Linked DNA regions of Homo sapiens. The protein of the gene in region 3 purifies or fractionates together with the protein of the main gene of each other region. This does not show direct contact. Each region holds a gene or a part of one and is shown on either strand. Other genes may lie near its edges. The genes, in order: DCAF4, POTEI, NID2, TMED7 and LAMA4.

What was found.
Region 1: the proteins of NID2 (region 3) and DCAF4 purify together in Homo sapiens (co-immunoprecipitation; one large-scale study listed by IntAct). This does not show direct contact.
Region 2: the proteins of NID2 (region 3) and POTEI purify together in Homo sapiens (affinity purification with mass spectrometry; one large-scale study listed by BioGRID and IntAct). This does not show direct contact.
Region 4: the proteins of NID2 (region 3) and TMED7 purify together in Homo sapiens (affinity purification with mass spectrometry; one large-scale study listed by BioGRID and IntAct). This does not show direct contact.
Region 5: the proteins of NID2 (region 3) and LAMA4 purify together in Homo sapiens (affinity purification with mass spectrometry; one large-scale study listed by BioGRID and IntAct). This does not show direct contact.

The regions. Positions count from the first base shown.
Region 1 is NC_000014.9:72,939,090-72,944,005, forward strand, and holds part of DCAF4 (DDB1- and CUL4-associated factor 4), read left to right. Parts: intron 1-712; coding exon 713-813; intron 814-1,130; coding exon 1,131-1,288; intron 1,289-2,655; coding exon 2,656-2,735; intron 2,736-3,904; coding exon 3,905-4,007; intron 4,008-4,916. UniProt on the Homo sapiens protein: May function as a substrate receptor for CUL4-DDB1 E3 ubiquitin-protein ligase complex.
Region 2 is NC_000002.12:130,458,028-130,462,130, reverse strand, and holds the end of POTEI (POTE ankyrin domain family member I), read left to right. Parts: 3' UTR 1-2,676; downstream 2,677-4,103.
Region 3 is NC_000014.9:52,037,622-52,042,537, reverse strand, and holds part of NID2 (nidogen-2 precursor), read left to right. Parts: intron 1-187; coding exon 188-433; intron 434-1,686; coding exon 1,687-1,887; intron 1,888-3,560; coding exon 3,561-3,791; intron 3,792-4,916.
Region 4 is NC_000005.10:115,618,958-115,623,873, reverse strand, and holds part of TMED7 (transmembrane emp24 domain-containing protein 7 precursor), read left to right. Parts: intron 1-3,193; coding exon 3,194-3,439; intron 3,440-3,454; exon of another isoform or gene 3,455-3,806; intron 3,807-4,674; exon of another isoform or gene 4,675-4,735; intron 4,736-4,916. Other genes in the region: TMED7-TICAM2 (TRAM adaptor with GOLD domain isoform 1 precursor), read left to right, coding at 3,194-3,439. UniProt on the Homo sapiens protein: Potential role in vesicular protein trafficking, mainly in the early secretory pathway. Appears to play a role in the biosynthesis of secreted cargo including processing and post-translational modifications.
Region 5 is NC_000006.12:112,244,175-112,249,090, reverse strand, and holds part of LAMA4 (laminin subunit alpha-4 isoform 1 precursor), read left to right. Parts: intron 1-4,916. UniProt on the Homo sapiens protein: Binding to cells via a high affinity receptor, laminin is thought to mediate the attachment, migration and organization of cells into tissues during embryonic development by interacting with other extracellular matrix components.

The DNA.
Region 1 (4,916 bases), about 21 Mb from region 3:
ACGCCTGTAATCCCAGCACTTTGGGAGACCAAGGCAGCCGGATCACTTGAGGTCAGGAGTTTGAGACCAGTCTGGCCAACACGGCGAAACTCCGTCTCTACTAAAAATATAAAAATTATCTGGGTGTGGTGGCACACACCTTTACTACATCCTTCAGCCTATAATTCCCTCAGAAGCTACTTGTGGATTTACAAATCAAGTGTTTTAGCCGCAGCTCTATCCCAGTGTTACTGAACTAATCACCTCTGTCCCCCAAACCCCAGTTTCTCTGTCTGTAAGATTGTGTAGTCAAGTAAAATTTAAACTCTTTGTGCTACTGAATCCAATAAAGAATGAAATTCACCTAGCCTTGTAACTGCTGTTGTGCTGACAAATGAGCCCAGCTGGTAAAATTCTTATTGGCAGAGATTTCTATTTTTCCTTTTAATCTGGAAAATTCCACAAGACCTCACAAAATGCGCGAGTGAGAAGATAAGAAGAGGGAATCACTGTGACATCTGTCCTCTTTTAAAGAAAGAAAAAAGAATGAAAAACCAAAACCTTGCCCTATTTTGTTGTATTTGCAAGAGGGGATCAGTGCTTCTCAAGTAATCAGAAAGGTCAGAGATCAGAGGTGAAGGCTGCAGAACTGCCCGAATGGACTCCCTGCCCCCGTCAGAATGGCTGGAACTCAAGTCCTGGGCTGCAAGTTAACACAGCTGTGTGTCAACAGGTCTGACTCCCGGGCAGCACAGCCCGCTCACGATTCCGGCCACGGTGATGACGAGTCTCCGTCAACCTCGTCTGGCACAGCTGGGACCTCCTCTGTGCCAGGTAAGGCCACTTGCGGGGTGGGAATCCTGGCCCTTGCACACAGGGAAGGCTGAGACCCGTTCCTGGCTTGGAAGGAATTCCAGGAGCAAATTGAAACACTCAGGGAAGGAGCTGGGTGCGTCAGGAATGGTGGTCATGAGGCAAACCGCCTCCCCCAGGACTGAGCACAGTCCAGGATGTTGCCTGACAAGGCAGCTCATCCCCGCCCTCAGAAAAGACAGGCAGCCACGAGGTGGGGGGACAGGCCACTGGGCGCCCAACTCAGGTGGTCAGTTCACAGTGGTTGAAATTGGTGCATTTAATTTTTTTGTCTAAAGAGCTACCTGGGTTTTACTTTGACCCTGAAAAGAAACGCTACTTCCGCTTGCTCCCTGGACATAACAACTGCAACCCCCTGACGAAAGAGAGCATCCGGCAGAAGGAGATGGAGAGCAAGAGACTGCGGCTGCTCCAGGAAGAAGACAGACGGAAAAAGGTGGGCTCCTCACCCCTTCGCCCCCTGTCCTCTCCGCTCCTGCCAGCACCTGTCCATCCACTGTTGAAAAGGGTGCCAATTAGATGCCCCTGCGACACTTAGCAGAGGCACTTCAGGGGGTGTGGCCCTAGCTTTTCCCTGACAGGAAGAAGACAAGAATAAGAACAGCCAAGAGCCCCCTTCTTCCATCCCCGTTTTCTTGTTCGATAAGTTGTTTTTTTTTTTTTTTTTGAGGCGGAATCTCACTCTGTTGCCCAGGCTGGAGTACAGTGGCATGATCTCAGCTCAGTGCAACCTCCACCTCCCAGATTCAAGCAATTCTCCTGCCTCAGCCTCCTGAGTAGCTGGGACTACAGGCACGTGCCACCATGCCCAGCTAATTTTTTTATTTTTAGTAGAGACAGGGTTTCACCATGTTGGCCAGGTTGGTCTTGAACTCCTGACTTCAAGTGATCTGCCTGCCTCAGCCTCCCAAAGTGCTGGGATTACAGGCGTGAGCCACCACACCCAGCCTTCTTCAGCAGTTCTAACATTTTGTCATTCCTGAAGGAATCTTGGGAGGCAGTGTGATATAATTTTAGTAACTGTTTTTTGGGGTTTTTTTGAGACAGGGTCCCACTCTGTTGCCCAGGCTGGAGTGCAGTGGCGCCATCTCGGCTCACTGCAACCTCTGCCTCCCAGGTTCAAGTGATCCTCCTGCCTCAGCCTCCCAAGTAGCTGGGATTACAGGAACCTGCCACCATGCCCAGCTAATTTTTGTATTTTTTTTATAGAGATGGAGTTTCACCATGTTGGCCAGGCTGGTCTCGAACTCCTGGCCTCAAGTAATCCGCCCACCTTGGCCTCCCAAAGTGTGGGATTAGAGGTGTGAGCCACCATGCCCATCCCAGCTGTCTATTTTAAATAGAAGACCAGGATGCATGGTTTGGAATACAGGCCATCTTGTCTGTTTGCAATACAGACCAACAGGTCTAGACGCTAACATATTTTGTTGTCAAGGTAGGCAATGGAATGTAAAGTTCCAGCCCTGGGTCACCACGGGTGGAATGGAGAGTGGTGCAGACCTGTTTGCAGTCCCATTGCTGCACTCACGCACCTGGTGGCTTCGTCCCCCCGGGTGTATGTGGATGGGGAGCGTGGGCAGAGTTGACGAGCAGACTTTCCCACTCACACTTTCTTCTGCTGGGCCTTTCCTCTTGCCGAGGAAGGGAGACTTGGAAAGGACACCGTCAGATTTTTATGCATATAATTTCTGCCAATTTAGTGCCTGTTTCCTTCATTACATCCTATGGAACTAAAAACATTCTCCATCATCCCCTAACAAATAAATCTTCATTGAATTGTTCTCTTTTTTGTAATAAATATAGATTGCCAGGATGGGATTTAATGCATCTTCCATGCTACGAAAAAGCCAGCTGGGTTTTCTCAACGTCACCAATTACTGCCAGTAAGACAATGCCTCTTTGTTATGTTTTCTTCATGAATGTTCTTTTCCTGTTTCTTATTTTCATGGTATAAGAATCCAGTCTGGATAGACCATGTGGCTACCCCGTGAAGCACCTGCACAGTTGAGGGGCTCCAGTTCACACCCTGCCTTCTGCTGCTTAAACCCACCCTGAGAAAGCTGTTCTCTCTAGAGCGAAGGCGGGGGACTCTTGCAGGAGGATAGGGAGAGAGGATGGGGACGTAGGCAGAGATGTCTATTCTCTGTTACTCGTAAGTCATTCTAGTAGAAGCTCCTACAACTTCATTCCCATGACATTTCTGCATCCTTCTTTCCCTTCTAATGAGTTGTCACCAACAATGGGGCATTAAGTGGATGTGTGTGTACTAAACCTTATCAAAGTACTTATGATGGCTGATACAATTCTAACTAAAACCCTGTGAAATAGGCCGATACTTTCCCCCATTTCCTGAAGAAGAGACTGAGGCTCAGAGTGGAGTGATTTGCTCAAGGTAAAGCTAGAAGTGGGGAACTGTCTGACTCCAACACCTGAGCGCCCAGCGCTGCGTCTCCTGCCCCCACTGTACATGCTCAAGTGAAGAACCTGCATTTGAGGCAGCTTCCTGGGGCACAGCCCTCGGACCTTGGAGCAGGGCCCCTTCAGGGAAGGCCAGAAACACCGTAGGTATCAGGCAGGGCAGGCCCCTCCTGTTTTCCTCCTTCTGAGACAGAAAGTTAAAAATCTAGTTAGATCTGTTCCTCACCCTGCGAAACAAGAGGCGGCCGTATCCTGGGGCTCTTCCCGGCAGCCGTATCCTGGGGCTCTTCCCAGCAGCGGAGTGCCCTCCAGACCATTGTTTCATCTCCCGCACTTTCGTCATCTCAGGGGAAGGAGCTGTACTGAATGATGCAGACACAACTCCCTCTAACTCCCACTCTTTGACTCTGCAAATGGGCCACCCACTTCTTCATTTTCATCTTCCTGAGCGTTCTGTGGGGAAACTCAAATTCGGATAATCTGGGATCTTGCTCAGCTCCATTGCTGAGAAGTACTGTGGAGCAGGCTGACGAGGAGAGATGGGCGTCAGCGGGGCAGGGAAGGCCAGAGACCCCCGAATCTTCTTCATGGATGTCAGCTTCAGCATCCATGCCCCCACCCTCTGTTTCTGCAGTTTAGCCCACGAGCTGCGTCTCAGCTGCATGGAGAGGAAAAAGGTCCAGATTCGAAGCATGGATCCCTCCGCCTTGGCAAGCGACCGATTTAACCTCATACTGGTGAGTGGGAGGGGGACACCTGCCTAGGGTGTGGCTGCCACCCTCTGGACACTTTGTGGCTTAGCGTTGCCAGTCATCAAACCTGGCTCTGGAGAAGCCAACTGCAATGAAAGTAGGTGGCATCTTCTTGGTTGTACGATTTTAACCTGCCTGCTGGCTACCCGCTGGGAGACGCTGAGCTGGCAGGCAGGCTGTGGGGCGACCATCATCACCCCCCACTTCAGCTCCGTCGTTTAACGTCAGAGTCTGGACCCAGCCACACCTTGACTACTGAACTTTACACAATAACTTCTCCTTGGCTGTGTTGTATATGCAATTAAAAAGGCTCACAGTGGACCTGGGGACATCTGCTTCTTCCTGAACTGGGGCAGGACTTGGTGGCTAAACCTGCAGCCCAGTGTGCCTTTGGTCACTAGAGGGTAGGACTCCTTGCTTGCCGCCCCTGGCTTCAGTGGCACCTCCCATCAACACACCTCCATTACATCATTTGCAGGGGGTGAAAGGCCTTCTCTGGTTTGGGTTGGACCCAAGCTGGAAGCCAAGGTCAGCCGCTTAAACCCAGGGGCCAGGGAAAGGTTGGCAGAGAGCTAGAAGGACCACTGCAAACAAAGGTCCCTGACCTTTCGATGGACCACGTAAGAGCAGGGCCTGCCCGGCAAGCCCTATCCTTCCTGGAGGCTGAGGGAAAGCCAGGGAGAGTGAGAGGAGGATACAGAGGCAGGAGCATCTGGACTCGGTCATCTGCTGGTGGGACTGGAGGCCGATGCTAGAGATTGACCCTGGAGGTTGATACTGCATCCTCCTGCCCCAGGAGACCGCCACAGCAGGGCCCTTCCATGTAAGGGGTGTTGGGGACCGGGCCCACATTCTCCCATGTGGCTTTTCTCTCCATGTGTGCTTGGGGGTATG
Region 2 (4,103 bases), on a different chromosome or scaffold from region 3:
ACACAACGAGGAAACACCGGAAATGGAAATTCAATTACGTCATTGTAGACTGGCTGCTGCTCTACATGATTGTGACCAAAGTCAGATAGCTGAAAGAGACTTCTTTCCAGAGAACAAGACATGAACAGGTTTATTTACAGAAGACAATGAATTCTCATTTATCTCACCTAAAAGAGAACAGATTCTTTCTCAACAAGTCTAACGTAGACAGTAAAATCAACAGGCTAAAAATTAAGCTCCATGAAACAAGATAAAACTCTGAGAGAAAAGACGGGGCAGGCCGCCATCTTTCCCGTTCAGGCAACTTAGTCATTCCAGCCTGCGGGCTTTGGAGAGTACAAACCGACGAGGGACAGAAGAGATCCCACAGCACAGCATAGCTGCTTTACCAAATCATGGCCAGACTGCTTCTGTAAGCAGGCCCCTGATCCTGTTCCATCTCACTGGACAGGACCTCCCAACTGGGGCCTCCAGCTACCCCCACCAGCATTCCTTGGCCAATGGAAATGTGAAATGTTCCTGGGACAGAGCTCCCGGAGAGGGGCAGGCCCCCACCTTTGCTCTTTCGGTGACTAGCCATTCTGGCCTGCGGGCTTTGGAGAGCCCAAGCTGACAAGGGGTGGAAGAGGTACCTCAGCACAGCACAGCCACGCTACCAAAACGTGGCCAGACTCTTGTTTACGTCAGTCCCTGACCACATTTCTAGTCAGTGGGTGAAGTCTTTCAACCAGGGTCTCTGGCTACCTTGACTGCTGTTCTCTGGCCGACAGAGGTCTCAGGCCTCCCTGAGTCAGAGCTCCCAGGGGGAGGACCAGATTGTCATCTTTGCTGTTGGGGCGACCCAGGCATTTCAGCCTTAGGGCTTCAGAGTGTCTGAGGCGGACCAGGGGCTGAAGTGAACCCCCAGCACAGCACAGCTGCTCTATAAAAACGTGGCCAGACTTTTCTTTTTGAAGCAAGTCCCTGTTCTTGTTCGTCCTGACTAGGTAAGACTTCTCAACTTGCCTCCAGCCACATCTTATAGGTGTGTTCAGATTGGCAACAGGTTCGTACCTCAGTGGTACAGAGCTTCCAGAGGAAGGGGCAGACTATCATCTTCCCTGGAAAATACAAGGCAATTAGGGACTGGAGGGGACCCCCAGCATACCACAGCAGCCCTACAGAAAAGTGGCCAGGCTCTCTACTTGATGGGCAGATCCTCCTGGCCTGGGTCTCTAGCCAGCCCACCACTGGAGCTATCAAGCCAGTAGCAACTCTGCAGTTCCTGGGACAGAGCTTCCAGGAGCAAATGAAATCCTTTCTGCCACTGCCTCTGCAGTGGAACTGCCCTTGCTGCCCTCAGAAGATGCAAGGGAGCAAAGACCCTAAGTGCCCTATCAACACCTCCAATAAGCTGCAGTTGACCCAAAGAACAAGCCAGTCCATCTCCCACGGGTACCACACACCCTCCACTACTCATCACCAGACAGGGAACCCTGGCTTGGGCCCACAGCACAGACCCTCCATCCTGGGCTGATTACACTAAGTGATTGCTAACTCACATGTCTCTGGGATGGAGCACCCAGGAAACAAGCAAAGTGGTGGAGCAGCAAGTCAGGTGATGTGGAGCCCAGAGGTCAGGGATGGCTGTCTCTCTAGGGTCCACTTGCCCTTGTGAGACACTTTATCCCAGCACTTTAGGAATACTGAGGTCATACCAGCCACATCTTATATGCAAGATTGCCCAGCAGAGATCAGGTCCGAGAGTTCCCTTTTTAAAAAAAGGAGACTTGCTTAATAAAAGAAGTCTAGCCACGTTTGTGTAGAGCGGCTGTGCTGTGCTGGGGGTTCACTTTTGAGAGAGTTCTCCTCTGAGACCTGATCTCTGGAGGCTGGGCAATCTTGCACTTGAGATGGGGCTGGTCTGATCTCAGCACTCCTTAGTCTGCTCGCCTCTCCCATGGCCCCAGCCTGGCCACACCTGCTTACGGGGCACTCTTAGATGCCCACACCATAGCTTCCGTGCTAGTGGACTGTACCATATCAGTGGAGAGCTGCAGCAAGGTGGCCCCTAGAGCCACGCACCAGCCTGCACATTGCCTCTCCATACGGCAGCCCTTTATTTGGAAACTTCCTAAATCACTTTGCTGTGTGTGTTTACACGGGTGGGTTTTGCTTTACTTGCCCTGAGAGCACACAGGAGTGCAGCACACACCCCAACCCACATCAACTGCCATTAAAGAAAAGAAATTTCAGCCCAGAATTTCATGTCCAGCAAAATTAAGCATCATAAGTGAAGGAGAAATAAGATCCTTTTCAGACAAGCAAGTGCTGAGGGAATTTGGTATCACCAGATCTACCTTACGAGAGCTCCTGAAGGAAGCACTAAATATGGAAAGAAAAGATCATCACCTGCTACTACAAAAACACACTGAAGTACACAGTCCAATGATGCTAAAAAGCAAGCACATATGTAAGTCTGCAAAATAACCAGCTGACAGCATGACGACAGGATAAAATCCACACATACCATTACTAACCTTAAATGTAAATGGGCTAAATGCTCCCATTGAAAGACACGGGGCAAGCTGGGTAAAGAACCAAGACCCACTGGAGTATGCCGTCTTCAAGCAACCCATCTCACGTGCAGTGCCATACATAGGCTCAAAATAAAGGAATGGAGAAAAATATTTCAAGCAAATGGAAAACAGAAAAAAGGTGTTGCACTCCCAGTTTCTGACAAAACAGACTCTACCAATAAAGATAAAAAAAGAGAAGGACATTACAAAGGTGGTCCTGACCTTTGATAAATCTCATTATTGCTTGATACCAACCTGGGCTATTTGTATTGCCCAAACCAATAGGATAATTTGCTGAGGTTGTGGAGCTTCTCCCCTTCACAGAGTCCCTGATCTCCGAAAATTTGGTTGAGATGTAAGGTTGATTTTGCTGTACAACTCCTTTTTTGAAGTTTTACTCATTTCCAACAAGGAAGGCAAGTTTTCCTGCTTCCATTGACAAAGGAGAGCAGGCACCTCCTTTCCTGAGTTTCAGCTTGCTTCTGACAGGGAAGGTGAGTGTAAGTTTTTCCAGCTTCTAAGATGGCAGAGAATGATCACCCAGTCTGAGCCTTATTTCCAGGTAAGTAGCTGAATTAGAGTTTTGTCTTAAAATTTTTCCTTAATGACTAAAATTTAAGATTACCCACCAGCTGCTTTTAATTCCTCCTTACCATTAGAACACTCAGTTAATCATATGAATTGTGCATTTGTTTGTTTTGCTTAACTCTTTTTGTTTATGTTTGGGGTTTTATTGTTGTTTCACTTTTCTCCCATCTCTTCCTGACTTGGTCAAATCCAAAGGAATGTTCCAAATTGTGGGGAGCAAGGCATCTGAATTGGCTAAAACTCCTGGGGCTGCAAAACAAAAACAAAAACAAAACAAAACAAAAAAACAACAAAAAAAAAAACCACAAAAAACAAAAAAAAATCCAGTTGGAAATTTTTTAAAACTTTTTTTTAATTTTTAAATTTTATTATTATACTTTAAGTTTTAGGGTACATGTGCACAATGTGCAGGTTTGTTACATATGTATACATGTGCCATGTTGGTGTGCTGCACCCATTAACTCGTCATTTAACATGAGGTATATCTCCTAATGCTATCCCTCCCTGCTCCCCCACCCCACAACAGTTCTCGGTGTGTTATGTTACCCTTCTGTGTCCACGTGTTCTCATTGTTCAGTTCCCACCTACGAGTGAGAACATGAGGTGTTTGGTTTTCTGTTCTTGTGTTTGTTTGCTGAGAATGATGATTTCCAGCTTCATCCATGTCCCTGCAAAGGACATGAACTCATCCTTTTTTATGGGTGCATAGCATTCCATAGTGTATATATGCCACATTATCCAGTCTATCATTGATGGGCGTTTGGGTTGCTTCCAAGTGTTTGCTGTTGTGAACTGTGCCGCAGTAAACATACGTGTGCATGTGTCTTTATATTAGAATGATTTATTATTTTTTCAGTATATACCCAGTAATGGGATTGCTGGGTTAAATGTATTTCTAGTTGTAGATCCTTGAGGAATTGTCACACTGTCTTCCACAATGGATGAACTAATTTATAC
Region 3 (4,916 bases):
GGAGGAGGGGAGAAAACAGACTGGAGGCAGGACTGTTTCATAGATGGATAATTGGTTGGTTAGGAAATCATTAAAGTGACTTGCTAAAGAGTGAGTTTTGGAAGTTGTCAGTGGAATAATTATACCTGGGTACACCCATCTCTAGCCAGGATGACGTCCAAGCCTAACTGGATTTGCTGTCTTTTAGGGGCACCTCACCGAGTGAATGGGAAAGTGAGTGGCCACCTCCACGTGGGCCATACACCCGTGCACTTCACTGATGTGGACCTGCATGCGTATATCGTGGGCAATGATGGCAGAGCCTACACGGCCATCAGCCACATCCCACAGCCAGCAGCCCAGGCCCTCCTCCCCCTCACACCAATTGGAGGCCTGTTTGGCTGGCTCTTTGCTTTAGAAAAACCTGGCTCTGAGAACGGCTTCAGCCTCGCAGGTGAGTAGGGCCTCTGAGAAGGCCGGTAGTCAGCATTGCTTTGGCAGTGGTGCTCCTTGGGGCACTGTCTTTAGGCCTTTACGCAGTGACAGAGGAATCACTTGTTTAATGTACTAGAGCCACATGTGTGTAGTTTTCTGGCCACAGGTTGTTGGGAATGGTTTGACCTCACATCACTGATTTTTGAAAGGCAGTGATTTCGTCTAAATGTTCTCCCAGCTGTTCTGAGAAACAGGATGATTCCATTCAGAACATTTGTGTCCTCTTACCCCAATTTGTTGCAGCATATTTGTCAGGCTTTTTAAATTATGCACAGATCTGTCAAATGCAAAAATGGTACTTGGGGCACCTGGGGATGATTTTACTTCATGGGGAAGGGGTGCTCTTCTCCTCCCAGCTCCACAACCTATAATAGTATAGGCCGGTGCACCCCAGACTTGAACCTGCACACACATCACTTGGAGGTCTTGTCAAAATGTAAATTCTGGTTCAGCAGGCCTGGGGTGGGGTCCGTGATTTTGCTTTTCTACCAAGCTAGGAGGTGAGGTACCAGTGTTGCTGGAAAGGCCACCCGTTGACAACAAGGATTTAGAAGATACTTTTTGGATTCTCACCTTCCAACCTGAAAACTTGTTTGCTAGAGGTTTTATCTTTATTGCATTAAAAATAGTTTTGTGAGAAGTTCTTTCTCCATCTTTAACTGCAGAGCTCGGTAGCTGTTAATAGGTTCTTGCTTTAATCAAAATTTGAATAAAGCCCTTGGGTCAAAAGTAGATAAAAAATGGCACACCTGGATAAATTTGTATTTCAGATAAACAATTTTCTAGTATAAGTATTACCCACATATTTCATGAGACATACTTATCTGAAATTCAAACAAAACCCTGAATGTCTTAGGTGGTAGTTTATTTGTTTTTGTTTTTTTGTTGTTAGGTTTATTTGTTTGTTTGTTTTTTGCTAAGTCTAGCAACCTTAGAGAAAAGTCAAGGACGTTCCCAAGAGTATTTCTCACAGAATACAAGCTTGTTCAAAGAGAAGCTGGGTGAGGTAAGGCAGGATGAAACCATATTCTTCAATGGAAAAGTTTGGGAACTTATGGAATCAACAGCTGATAGTGCTTACTCTCAGATATCAGATAATCTCCTTAGGCACGATCTCCAACAGCAGTAGAAATTGGGAGCGGGCAGTATATACTGGTAACTGTTTAAGCAAGACCTCTTTTCATCCCTGTGCTGAATGTTTTTCATCTCCAGGTGCTGCCTTTACCCATGACATGGAAGTTACATTCTACCCGGGAGAGGAGACGGTTCGTATCACTCAAACTGCTGAGGGACTTGACCCAGAGAACTACCTGAGCATTAAGACCAACATTCAAGGCCAGGTGCCTTACGTCTCAGCAAATTTCACAGCCCACATCTCTCCCTACAAGGAGCTGTACCACTACTCCGACTCCAGTATGTATAACCAGTCTTCACATCTGTAAAATGGGGATTATGCCCATCTCACAAGATAGATACAAGGCTTAAATGACTTACATGGCATGTCCTTAGAACAGTGCATGGAACATAAAATGAGCTCTATTATGTTATTACTCTTATTGTTACCATGAAATATATCGTGTAAGTGAGCAGAATGGCTGCTATACATAAGAATATCTATATCCCTACATAGTATTTTCAAATAATAAAATCAATAGCAACATTGTCCATGGGGTGGGTAGGGATGGTATAATTATATACAGTTTTTAACCATCCTACTTTCTGCAACATGGAAAAATAGTGATTATTGGAATTTATATTTATCTCAACCTTGTTTCAGCTGATGAGTTCAGGCTGCTTTAAAAAAAAAAAAAATCACAGAAAGAGGCCAGGTGCAATGGCTCATGCCTGTAATCCCACCACTTTGGGAGGCCAAGGTGGGTGGATCACCTGAGGTCAGGAGTTCAAGACCAGCCTGGCCAACATGGTGAAAACCTGTTTCTACTAAAAATACAAAAATTAGCAGGGTGTGGTGGCACGCTCCTGCGATCCCAGCTACTTGGGAGGCTGAGGCAGGAGAATCATCTGAACCTGGGAAGTGGAGGTTGCAGTGAGCCGAGATTGTGCCATTGTACTCCAGCCTGGGCGACAAAGCAAGACTCCATCTCAAAAACAAAACCAAAAAACACAGAGATGCTATAATTTATTATAAAACTAATGCTAGATTTGGAGTCAAAAGATAAGAATTTATATCCTGGACTTGCCATTTAATATCTATAGGGAAAGGCCTCTTAATATCTGAGAATGTATTTTCTCATCTTTCACATGGAACTAAAAATGCTTTTTCTATATTATGTGATCAATGTGTGCGAAGCGTGATGTGTTCTGTGAAAGTACTACCTGCGCACAGGATGCTGCCTCCATCACAGCTGCTGTTGTGCAGCACAGCAATCCGGATTGAGTTGTGCCTTTCCTCTGACCCCTGCTGCTCCTATGCTGAGAGCTGGCAGCCTGGCAGGAGATGTAGGGAAGACAAGGGGAAGCAGAGACCTGGGCTGTGAACAAAATGGTCAGTGTCCGGATCACTGACCTGAGCTTGACTCCTAGACTCAGATGGTGAGAGACAACCCTTTCCCTTCTCTGGAATCCTTCAGATTTACTGAAGTGCGAGGTGTTGGAAGTCGTCACTTCTGTGAAATGTAGAAGATGGATTGGTTTAAAATTTAGGGTGTAGAGTCAAACCAATGTGAGTTTCAGTTCCAGCTCTACCATGTGGCAGCATTGCATCTTAGGCTACTTAACCTTTGTGAGCCTCTGATCACATGATTTAGTGCCCACCTCACCAGGCTGTTGTGAGGAATAAATGAGGCAGTATGTAGAGAGCACTGTTGGCATGGCTGGCCCTTAGTAACACTTATTCTTTGTGTATAATAACATGGACAATTGTAGTGCCTTCTCCCTCTCAGCACTGTGGCTTTGCATCCACTCAGGTTTTTGGGATTTCCTTACACATTTTTTCATATAAACTCAGGAGGTTCCCAAGGGAACACACTCCAAGAATTAGATGAAAAAAACTGCAGAAAAATCCACCTCACATGAAAATCTCTGTATTTAATATTTTTAAAAAATTACCACTGTGTTTGTTGCAGCTGTGACCTCTACAAGTTCCAGAGACTACTCTCTGACTTTTGGTGCAATCAACCAAACATGGTCCTACCGCATCCACCAGAACATCACTTACCAGGTGTGCAGGCACGCCCCCAGACACCCGTCCTTCCCCACCACCCAGCAGCTGAACGTGGACCGGGTCTTTGCCTTGTATAATGACGAAGAAAGAGTGCTTAGATTTGCTGTGACCAATCAAATTGGCCCGGTCAAAGGTAAGGTTTCCTTTTTTGTTGTTGGGTAAAAATGACATCCTTTTAAGTAGAGTTAGAATGATTCACAGAGGTTACTAAGGGTTACCTAGTGCCATGCTGTGTTATGTGCTAGGTATAAGGATGAATAGAGCAGATCCTTGCCCTTGAGTTGGAAACAGAGGCAGAAAAGAGTTTTAGGGCAGGGAACAGTGTCCCTGCCAAAGTCAGGAAATAGAGCATAGTATGTGAAGCTGGTTTATAGCAATACCCAACTGTGCGTGCCAATCAGGAATATACCTGTGAACAAGGCAGACTGGAATTAGGAGGGAGAGTGATGCTGACAAGTATTTGTTACAAGTGTGATGAGAGCAGGGCACTGTGAGTCTAGTTTGAAGATTCAGAAAAGATGTCCCCAAGAAAGTGACATTTTAGCTAAAACAGATGAGAAGAATTTCATCCAAAACTAAGGTGGAGCAAAGAGCTAGTATCTGGAAAAACCAAACATCATAGAACTTGATGTATAACCTCCCCCTCCATGATTCCCAGAACATTATACTTAATGGTGAAAGACTGGATGCTTTTCCCTGAAGCTTAGGAACAAGACAAGGATGTCTGCTGTTGCCACTTTTATTCAATTCAGTACTAGAATTTCTAGCCAGGGTGATTAGGCAAGAACACAAAATAAAAGCCATCTAAATTGGAAAAGGACAAAGTAAAATTAGTCTCAGATGACATTTTGTGTAGAAAATCTCAGGAATTCACTAAAACACTATTAGAACTAAAGAACAAGTTCGCAATGTTATAAGATATGCAAGATCAGTACACCAAATTGTATTTCTCTATAGTAGCAATGAGCAAACTAAAGATTAAGAAATTGTTTCAAAAAGAGATAAATTTTTAAAAAGAAGTGCAGTACTTGTACATTGCATCCCACAAAACATTTTTGGAAAAAAATTTAAGACCCAGTTAAATGGGAAGATGTTCCACATTCATGGATTGGAAGACTTAATACTGTTAAGATGTGAATACTTCCCAAATTGATCTATTAATTCAACATAATCCCTATCAGAATCTCAGCTGGCTCTTTGAAGAAATTGGCAAGCTGATTCTAGAATTTATATGGAAATTCAAAGAACACAGAATAGC
Region 4 (4,916 bases), on a different chromosome or scaffold from region 3:
GACTTTGATCTCAGAGAGCTTACACAGACATATATAGTCATAAAATGTTAAATGTGACAATAAAGGTACACACTAGGTATAGTGCTGGCAGGAGACAGAAGGATCATCAGGGGACATTTAGCTGAGGAGCTGATGTTAGAGGTGAGTCTGCAAGATAAGTAGCCGTTGCTCTACAAGGCGGCAGAGGAGAGAAGAAGGGGCCCCAGGCAGATATGTTCATGACAGTTCCAGCAGGCCTGAAATTAGCCTGAGCTATATTGCTAACATTTGTGCATGGCATTGAAAATACACTGAATAATAATAGTTTTGTGACTATAGTTATATTTATTAATAGTCACAAAACTATTATTATTAGCTTTAATATGAAGCTATTATAATAGCTTTGTGACTGTGAGTCCAAGGGCTTTGGGGGCAGTTTGTACCAGTTTGTCAACATTATTTATTGGTAACAATGAGATTGATGATTTGCTCCTGGTCTTCATGAGACCACACCCCCAACCCAGAGCTCTGTTGTTGAGACTAGCTGCGTAGCAGGAATATGCCTATGTGACCAGCAAAATATTTAAAAATGCAATCAGGACTCTATTTTGGGTTGCTTGGTTCCAGGGTGTTTTCTTTGCACACTTGGGTGGTTCCAGATCTGAGAGAGTATATGTCTGGCCACACACCTAACAAAGGGAAGCCGAAGGAGCCCACACCTGACCTTTTCAGATCTCTTGCTGTGAGGCAGCCTTTGGCTGTAATGTTTTATATTCTTTTCCTTTTGGGGCTCTTTTCAGTCCCAAGTTAAATTCTTAGCCACTTTATTATACTACCTCCCAGAGACTGACTCTGACCTCAGAGAGCTTACATAGACATATATAGTCGTATAATGTTATAAACTGTAGATTTATAACATAACCTACAGTAATAAACTGTAGATTTGCAAACACTGTCATTTTGATCCGTGTGATTCTTTAGCAAACCCTGTTGAACTGCACTGTCAGTGCAGATGTAAAGCAAAGACTTGTTCAGAGAATTTCTGGTAGTCTGGTATTTTAGGAACATAGAACGAGTAAGGGTGTGAATAAAAGAGGTTCTGAAGCTACCTGGGAGGAAGAACATGTGAATAGTATACCATTGTTAAGAGGTTTAGATTTGTCTGCAGGCCACAGGTAATTATCAAAAAGTTTTTAAGTGATTGCTCAATGGGGAATGAGGAAAGATGGGGAGATGGGCACCCCTTCTTCCCAGGAGACATTCGGCATCATTTTAGGAGAAGGGCAGCTACCTGCATCTAGTAGTTAGAGACCAGGTATGCTGTTTAACGTGTCACAGTGCACAGGACCATACAGCCTCCTACAACACAGAATTATTCAGTTCAAAATGGGAATAATGCGAGGTTGAGAAACCCTGAGTTCGAGGGAGAAGATATTGGGTAGTGGGAAGACCTTTTAGGAAGTTGTGGCAATAGTCCTGTCTGGATTGTGGTTTCGGAATGCGATGAATTTGAGAGGGGCAAAAAGATTGAGAGATTTGTGTGATCATATGGATAGATAGGGACAGTTAGTTTGGGATGATCCTCAGTTTCAATAGTAGGTGATTGGACAGGTTTAAAGGGATACTGTTAAGTGAGATTACTTGTTTTAAGTTTGATGGAAGAGAAGTGGGGTGATGATAAGTTCTGGTGCTATTCGGTTTGTATGTATGTGTTTGATTATTCAGAATACAATGGTCAAATACGTATAATTCAGTATAGCAAAATGAAGTTATTTTCACCTGGAGAAAAAGTTACTGACTTTTTGGTGAGGATGGGGATTGGTAAATCCCCAATTGATAAGACACTTTTATATCAAAACATTTTATCTGTATATTAACATTTACATATTTTTACAGTTTCATAAGTGCATAATTATTTTCATTAGATTATCAAAATGATATGTAACATAGTTCATTAGTCATCTTCTCTCAAGTGAGAAAAGGTCACACAGATCCTTCTTTTAAATCCAAAGTTTGACCTAGAATGTCAGGATGCTAACCAAGAGAGTTCAAGGTTGAAAATAACAATCTTGTGCTCCCCAATCACATGGTGGTTTGGGAACCCTTCATTCAACCCAATGTGTATACGTTCACTCTGTTCACCTCTCTGCACTCCCTCTTTCTTCCTACTCAGTTCTTTCTCATGTAAGGAAGCCTTTCTCTTTAATCCTTTCCCCCTTTTGTCTCTTACAATACTTATCCAGTTACCGCAGGAAAAATCTCTCCCTCCTCTGTACAACCCAAATGGCTGGAATTGTAACTGATTAAGCATAAGCCGTGGAAAGTAGTTCCACAGTTCTGTTCAGACTCATATCACCTACCTCCAGGCTTCCATTCAGTATGTTTGCCATTAAGTACTGGCTTTCTAGATAAACAGACTTGTTGTCCTTCATGTTATTTTGTTTTTGCTTTAATCACAAGAGTTTCAACAATATTTTATTTAATCAGTTACGTGTCTCTCCTCAAAACAAGGTTGTAAATGATTATATACTTTTAGAATAGCCCACTCCGTTACTCAACTTATAGTGTAGTTCAAAACAAAATGTATATCAAATTCCATATAACTGACTATAAAAGAACTTAATAAATGTAATCTATTTGTAATTTGGCAGTAAAATGAGCTTAAGTTCTATGATAGAAGTATGAATGGGGTGTAATCCTAAGGATTGGCCTACCTTGTTACTTCACTGTGTGTGTGCTTGGATGATGCTAATAGGAAAGTGGGTTAGAAAATTTTCAGAAGGAAAATATTGCAGGCAGTAAGCTTAGAGGTTAAGAATATGACTTTGGAGTTCAAGTTCTGCCTTTCCCACTTAATTTAGATGAACAGTCTTGAATAGTTCGCTTATTTAACATCAGTTTTTCAGTCTGTCAAATGGAAGGAAAAAAGTATATTGTAGGGTTGCTGGGAGAATTAAGTGATCTAATAGATCTCCATTAATTAGCACAGTTGTCTGGCTAGTTCAAAGTGAATAAAAGTTGGAGAATACTTGTTCAGTTTCTGTAAAGTTTAGTTGAAGTAAAATCTCCCAAGTTCCATCCACTGGTGAAAATTTAAAAAGATAGTAAAAGTCCTTTGCCCATCACCTTATTGCCATTTTAATAGGAAATCTGATTAAATCTGATTAATTTTTCACACTTTTCACAGTGATTTTTCTTTTTTAATCTCTTACAGGTGATTACTGGTGGTCACTATGATGTAGATTGTCGATTAGAAGATCCTGATGGTAAAGTGTTATACAAAGAGATGAAGAAACAGTATGATAGTTTTACCTTCACAGCCTCCAAAAATGGGACATACAAATTTTGCTTCAGCAATGAATTTTCTACTTTCACACATAAAACTGTATATTTTGATTTTCAAGTTGGAGAAGACCCACCTTTGTTTCCTAGTGAGAACCGAGTCAGTGCTCTTACCCAGGTAAATAAAAAAATCAGCAATATAATGTTGGTATATTTAAAAGGAGGAAAAAAGCATAATTTAATATCATGCACTAACTGATGAGCATGGAATTTTGAGACTGACAGTCTTTAAAATCTATCTTAATTCTTACATGTAGGCATTTCACAGAGAACTTCAGACTTTTGTAGTGAAAAATAATGTTGAAAGATTTTATGAACTTTTAATTGTAAAGAGAAAGAAGCATTAAAATAAGGAGGAAGATCACTAAGGTAGAAACATCAGTGGTAAAAGAAGGTTGGGAAGGCTGAGCAGTGTTCCAATCTTCTGAAGCATTTTCTTTAATCCCTGAAGGAATGTTGCTGTCATACTCAGGAGGCTGGTGTAACTGGAAGCAAAATGATGCCTAAATTAGTAGATAAATAATACCATATCATAGCCTTTATACCATTACTTAGTGTTACTCAAGCTGCTGTAACAGTAACTTGTGCTGTAACTTTAGGTGAAATATTGAAGATTAATGGTAAGTCATCTCACAAAAATAGTTACAAAAGCTAAATTCAGATTTATTTTGGAGACATAGAGAAAGCGTAAAAAATTTAAACCCAGTGAACAACTATTGCTTAGGTGATGAGGACTGTTTTATTTCTAGTTCAAATACAGCAAAATCCAAAATGCTTCAAAATCCAAAACTTTTTTTTAGCTCCAACCTGATGACACAAGTGGAAGATTGTTACATCTGATCTCATGACACATCATTGAAAATATCATATACAGTTGCCTTAAGGCTGCATGTATAAGGCATATATGAAACATAAATGAATTTCATGTCTAGACCTGGGTTCCATCACAAAGATATCTCATTATGTATATGTAGACATTCCAAAATCAGAAAAAATCTGAAATTCAAAGCACTTCTGGTCCCAAACATTTTGGATAAGGGATACTCAACCTGTATGGGCTTAGATCGTATCTAAAAGTTACTCAATTAGGCATGAAAAAGAATTATTTACCACTTATTCGTTAACATCTTAAACTGGTATTTTAGTGTTCCCAGGTTCTATTTAGTCTCTTGGCCAAAGTCATGGTGAAAGAAACAGCTTTAAGAATGTGTAAAAGCCTTAATTCATAAACCTGTTGTTAGAATTAGCAAGATATATTCAAATACTCTTAATTTTAGAAATGTTCTCTTTATTTTAAGGTCTTGTGTGAAGGACACCTTGCTTTGTAAAATGATATTTCTTTGGGGCCATTACCTTAACCTGTATCCATTCCTTCATGAATTTTAACTTGTATAAGGTGGCTTGTTCTAAAAACCTAAGTGGGTAAATATAAGAAATGAATGGTAATAAAGCAGTTAGTATCATACCCGTCTTTATCCATGCTACATTTTTTATTTTTCTCAGTCTTATTTTTCTACTTTCAAAAAGATAATGTATCATATAATAGGGATCATTATAAAGCAACTTTTCATACTTTAAAATTGAAAATTACCAGC
Region 5 (4,916 bases), on a different chromosome or scaffold from region 3:
GCATAAGTTACAAAAAGTTGAGATAACTTCCCTTCTCCGTCTAGCCTAATGACTACTTTTTAAAACTACTCACGTAAGAAAGAAAAAAACTAATACTTGTTGACTTCTACTATGTCCCATCAACCTCCATGAATTGTCTTAATACTAAATAGTGAAAATTATACCCATTTTACAGATGAGTTCATTGACATTTAAGAGTGGTAATTACCTTAACCAAATTTTCATATTCCTTTCTCTGCTTTCTGTATACCAGGGAGTCTTCCTGATAGAGCACTTTTTTTTTCAACTATAGAGTCTCCTTATCCTATTTTCTCTTTATAATGATATTCTAGGGTGTGTCCTCCACGTGATGCTACAGTCTATCTTAAAAGCTGTTGATTTAGATTAATAAGTAGGAAATTCATAACAGTATTACCTATGGAATACCTGGTCTATGTTATGGAATTTATTATAACATTGCTAAAAAGTAAAGAATTCCATTCCCTAGTGTTCCAGGGTTCTCTGATTTAACCAGAGGAAGTCTTTTCTTTTAACATGATAAAATAAAAATAACAGAAACTTTGCCATTTGAACTTTTTTTTTTTTTTTTTTTGAGACAGAGTCTCCCTCTGTCACCCAGGCTGGAGTACAGTGGTGCTATCTTGGCTCGCTGCAACCTCTGCCTCCCGGGTTCAAGCAATTCTCCTGCATCAGCCTCCCGAGTAGCTGGGACTACAAGCGTGTGCCACCATGCCTGGCTAATTTTTTGTATTTTTAGTAGAGACGGGTTTCACCGTGTTAGCCAGGATGGTCTCAATCTCCTGACCTTGTGATCTGCCTGCCTCGGCCTCCCAAAGTGCTGGGATTACAGGCATGAGCCACTGCACCTGGCCATTTGAACTATTTTTAAGGGCACAGTTCAGTGGCATTGACTATATTCACATTGTTATAAAACCATCACCATCAATCTCCAGAACTTTTTCATTTTCCCAAACTGAAACCCATTAAATGATAACTTCCGATTAACTCCTTCCTCCAGCCCCTGGCAACAACAATTCTACTTTGTCTCTATGAATTTAACTACTCTAAATACTCCATATACATAATCATGCAGTACTTATCCTTTTGTGCCTAGCTTATTTCATTTGGCATAATGTCTTTGAGGCTCACCCATGTTGTAGCATGTGTCAGAATTGCATTCCTTTTTAAAACTGAATAATACTCTGTTTATATGTACACTATGTTTTGTCCATTCATTTTGTTGATGGACATTTGGGTCGTTTCTACCTTTTGGCTACTGTGAGTAATGCTGCTATGAATATTGCTGTACAAGCCTCTGTTTGAGTTCTTGCTTTCAGTTTTTTGGGAGTGTATACCTAGAAGTGGAATTGCTGGATCATATGGTACAGAGAAAGTTTTAAGACTTGGAGTCTTATAGGGGCCAGGTAAAAAAGAATTGAGTGAATCTAGCTCGGTAAAGAAACGCATCCTGTGAGTGGTGGGCCTCGATAACAGGAAATGGAAGAATCCCTCTTCCAGAGTGGCAGCCACCTCTCAGCATTGCCAGGTCTTCTGGTTTTGTTTTGTTTTGTTGTGTCTTTTTCAAAAGAAGACAGAATTTGGATTCATAAGTGAAATTGCTGACTCAAATTTTTTTTAATGCCCTGTAGGCTGAGTACATCTGAGGGCCAGATTCAGCCTAAAGATCATTTATTTGCAGCCTCTGCTTTACAATATTTTGAAGTTCACCTTTCGTTACAGGCAGAATATGGGCTTACAACCAGACAGATGCGCTGTGAATCCAGCTCCACAACTTTCTAGCTGTTTGACTTTGGGCAAATTGGACCATCTTTTAGATACTCAGTTCCTTTGATTGTAAAATAAATAGAAATACACCTGCCTTGCAAAATTCTTGTGAAATTTAAATGAAATAATATATGTAAGCTGCCCAACACAAAGTTAGCCCTCATTTCTCTCAGTCTGTCCCTCCTTCCTTTCCCTCATTTTTCCACTCTCTGCCTCTGTCTATCTTCAGGTAAAGCTCTACACTATCTTGTTAAAAGTATTTTGTTATCAAACTCTTTACTTATTCCATAAATTCGAGTACTTTTAACTTTTGCTTAAAATTTGCTGATTATCCAACATTGGAGAAGAAGGCTGTCATTTAGTTTTTATAATCATTGTGTCTTTTATGGTTCTTTAAACAGCCTTTCCCCAGCAATAGGAGGATCTGAGCAGTTAAGAGAAATGAATGCTAAATCCCTAGAAAAGCTAAAGAAAAAAGCCAACAGCAGCTGGGCACGGTGGCTCACGCCTGTAATCCCAACACTTTGGGAGGCCAAGATGGGTGGATCACAAAGTCAGGAGTTCAAGACCAGCCTGGCCAAGATGGTGAGACCCCGCCTCTACTAAAAATACAAAAAAATTAGCTGGACATGGTGGCAGGTGCCTGTAATCCCAGCTACTTGGGAGGCTGAAGCAGAGAATTCCTTGAACTCGGGAGGCGGAGGTTGCAGTGAGCGGAGATTGTGCCATTGCACTCCAGCCTGGGCGACAGAGCGAGACTCTATCTCAAAAAAAAAAAAAAAAAAGCAGCTTTGATATGACAAGGATAATACCTTTTTTCCTCTCATAATTAAATACTAAATCTGACTTGTCACAGTTTCTTGAATTAAAATGCCAAAAACACTCCCCTACTTTAGAGTTTTTTCTGGCTTATAGTAACCACATAAATATAATGATGGCCAGACATAATTTTGAGAACTTTGATTGGTTAAAAGCCATTAAAACCAGATTGCTAGTATATGCTTTGAGTCCAAACCTTAGCATTTCCAAACAATCATTTTTTTCTAAAATAAGTAAACCTAGTCTATTGATGTATAGTGACCATACAGAAGAATATTTAAATACCTACTCATATTTGCAAAAGAGCAGCATTCTTTTTTCAACTGTTTTTCTTTTTGGCTCTTGGTGTGGTAAAGTTAAATTCTGGGAAATGGTTTACTAAAGGGAAGTTTAACCACAGATGTTTGTAATTCCAACTTAAGTTTCCCATCAAAGTCTTAATGAAATTCAGCTGCCAGCAGTTCGGCTCTGAATCTGAGTCTTTTTATCATGAGAAACTTGGGGGAAACAACATTCTGAAGCTGAATGGTAATGGGAAAATTTCCATATTCAGCCCAAATCCTCTCCATAAAGAAAAAAATACATAAACAAATTCTGTTAAAAGCGGGAGGAGAGACGGGTGAATATAATTTGAGTAATATGCAAAATGACCTTCTTTTCACTCCCAGGACTTTCTTAGTTTTTATGTTGTGTTTTGGTGGAGGCTAGAGATCCGTGTTTACCTAAATGGAGTGAAGTATACACATTTTTTACTTCATGAGAACTGATGAGTTAGAGAAATCCCGTAACATTAACAGCTGCATTAGCACAAGTCTTTGCAGAGTAGACCAGTCATCCAGGCTGTACTCTACAGCTAAAAGGGCCCCTGAGCATGATGAAGACTTTGCATATTAATATTTATTTTGAAATTATGCCATTTTGGAGTGGCATGATTGCTTCAAAGGAAATCAAGGACTCTAGGAATCAAAAGTACCTTCACTAAAACTTCCCTCACACACACAACTATTACATGGAACACTGTTGTCTATGTACAAAGTGAAATGCAACATGGCATGCTGAACCAAGCAGCTCTAGAAAGCCAAATGTCAGTCCAAAGAAACACATAACATAGACACCAGCCAAAGGGAAGAGAAATGTCTAGTAAGCCTCAGGCCCTGGGATGCTAGGACTATAGAACCCTCTAGAATCACAACACAGAGCCACAGCACAAATTCGGGTTCTGAAAACCCTGGCAAGCCTCTTCTTCCACAGCAGAGGTAGTCCAGGATGCCTTTCAAACTTCATGGCTACATGTGTGTGTTTCCCTTTGATGAACAGTGATACAATTTGACAAGCTGAAGGTGTTACCTAAGTGTTACCTCTTTTCCTGCTATCTGTCCTGAGTCCTAGGTGGTTCTGTCAACCCCCAGGTCACAGATGAGGTGTTAAATGCCTGCTATTTGGAGATTAAATGGTCTGAATATCTGGAGATGGGCTGCGGTTTAATTGTAGTACATGAATAATTGCCTCATTTTATATTGTTCCTTTGAAATTGTTGTCTGCCACCATTAATGCCAATAGACACCCTGAAATTCCATTCATAAGAGACCTGAAGCTTCTCCTGCAGCACAGAATTCAGCATAAAGGAGACCTGTTTGAAAGCAGAGTCAGTGGGTGGTTATTATTGGTTACATAAATCTATCATACCTTGCAATATGAGCCATGAAATCAAAGGAATCATAGAATGTCAGACTTAGGAAGTTTAGAGATTCAACTCTCTCATTTTGTACGTGAGAAGAGAGGGGAGGTGTGGGTGCTTGACCCCGGGACACAATGCCCATTAGCAGTAGTACACGTGTCACAGGGTAAACCCCCAAATTGGAGTTCAGCCTGGGAGGCCATGTGGGTTCTTGGCTTCACACAGGGAGGAACTCAAGAACCAGCCGACAGAGTAAAATGAAAGCAAGTTTATTAAGAAAGTAAAGGAATAAAAGGGTGCGTACTCTATAGACAAGCAGTCCTGAGGGCTGCTGGTTGTCTGTGTTTATGGTTATTTCTTGATCATATGCTACACAAGGGATGGATTATTTATGAGTTTTCCAGGAAAGGGATGGGGAAGTCTCAGAACCGTGAGTTTCTCCACCTTTCAGGCCTTATAGGGTAACTTCCAGACATTTCATGGCATTTGTAAACTGTCACGGTGCTGGTGGGAGTTTCTTTTGGTATGCTAATGTATTATAATTAGCATGTAATGAGCAGTGACAGAGACCAGAGGTGGCTTTTATTACCATCTTGGTTTTGGCGTGGTTTGGCCAGCTTCTTTACTGCGGGGT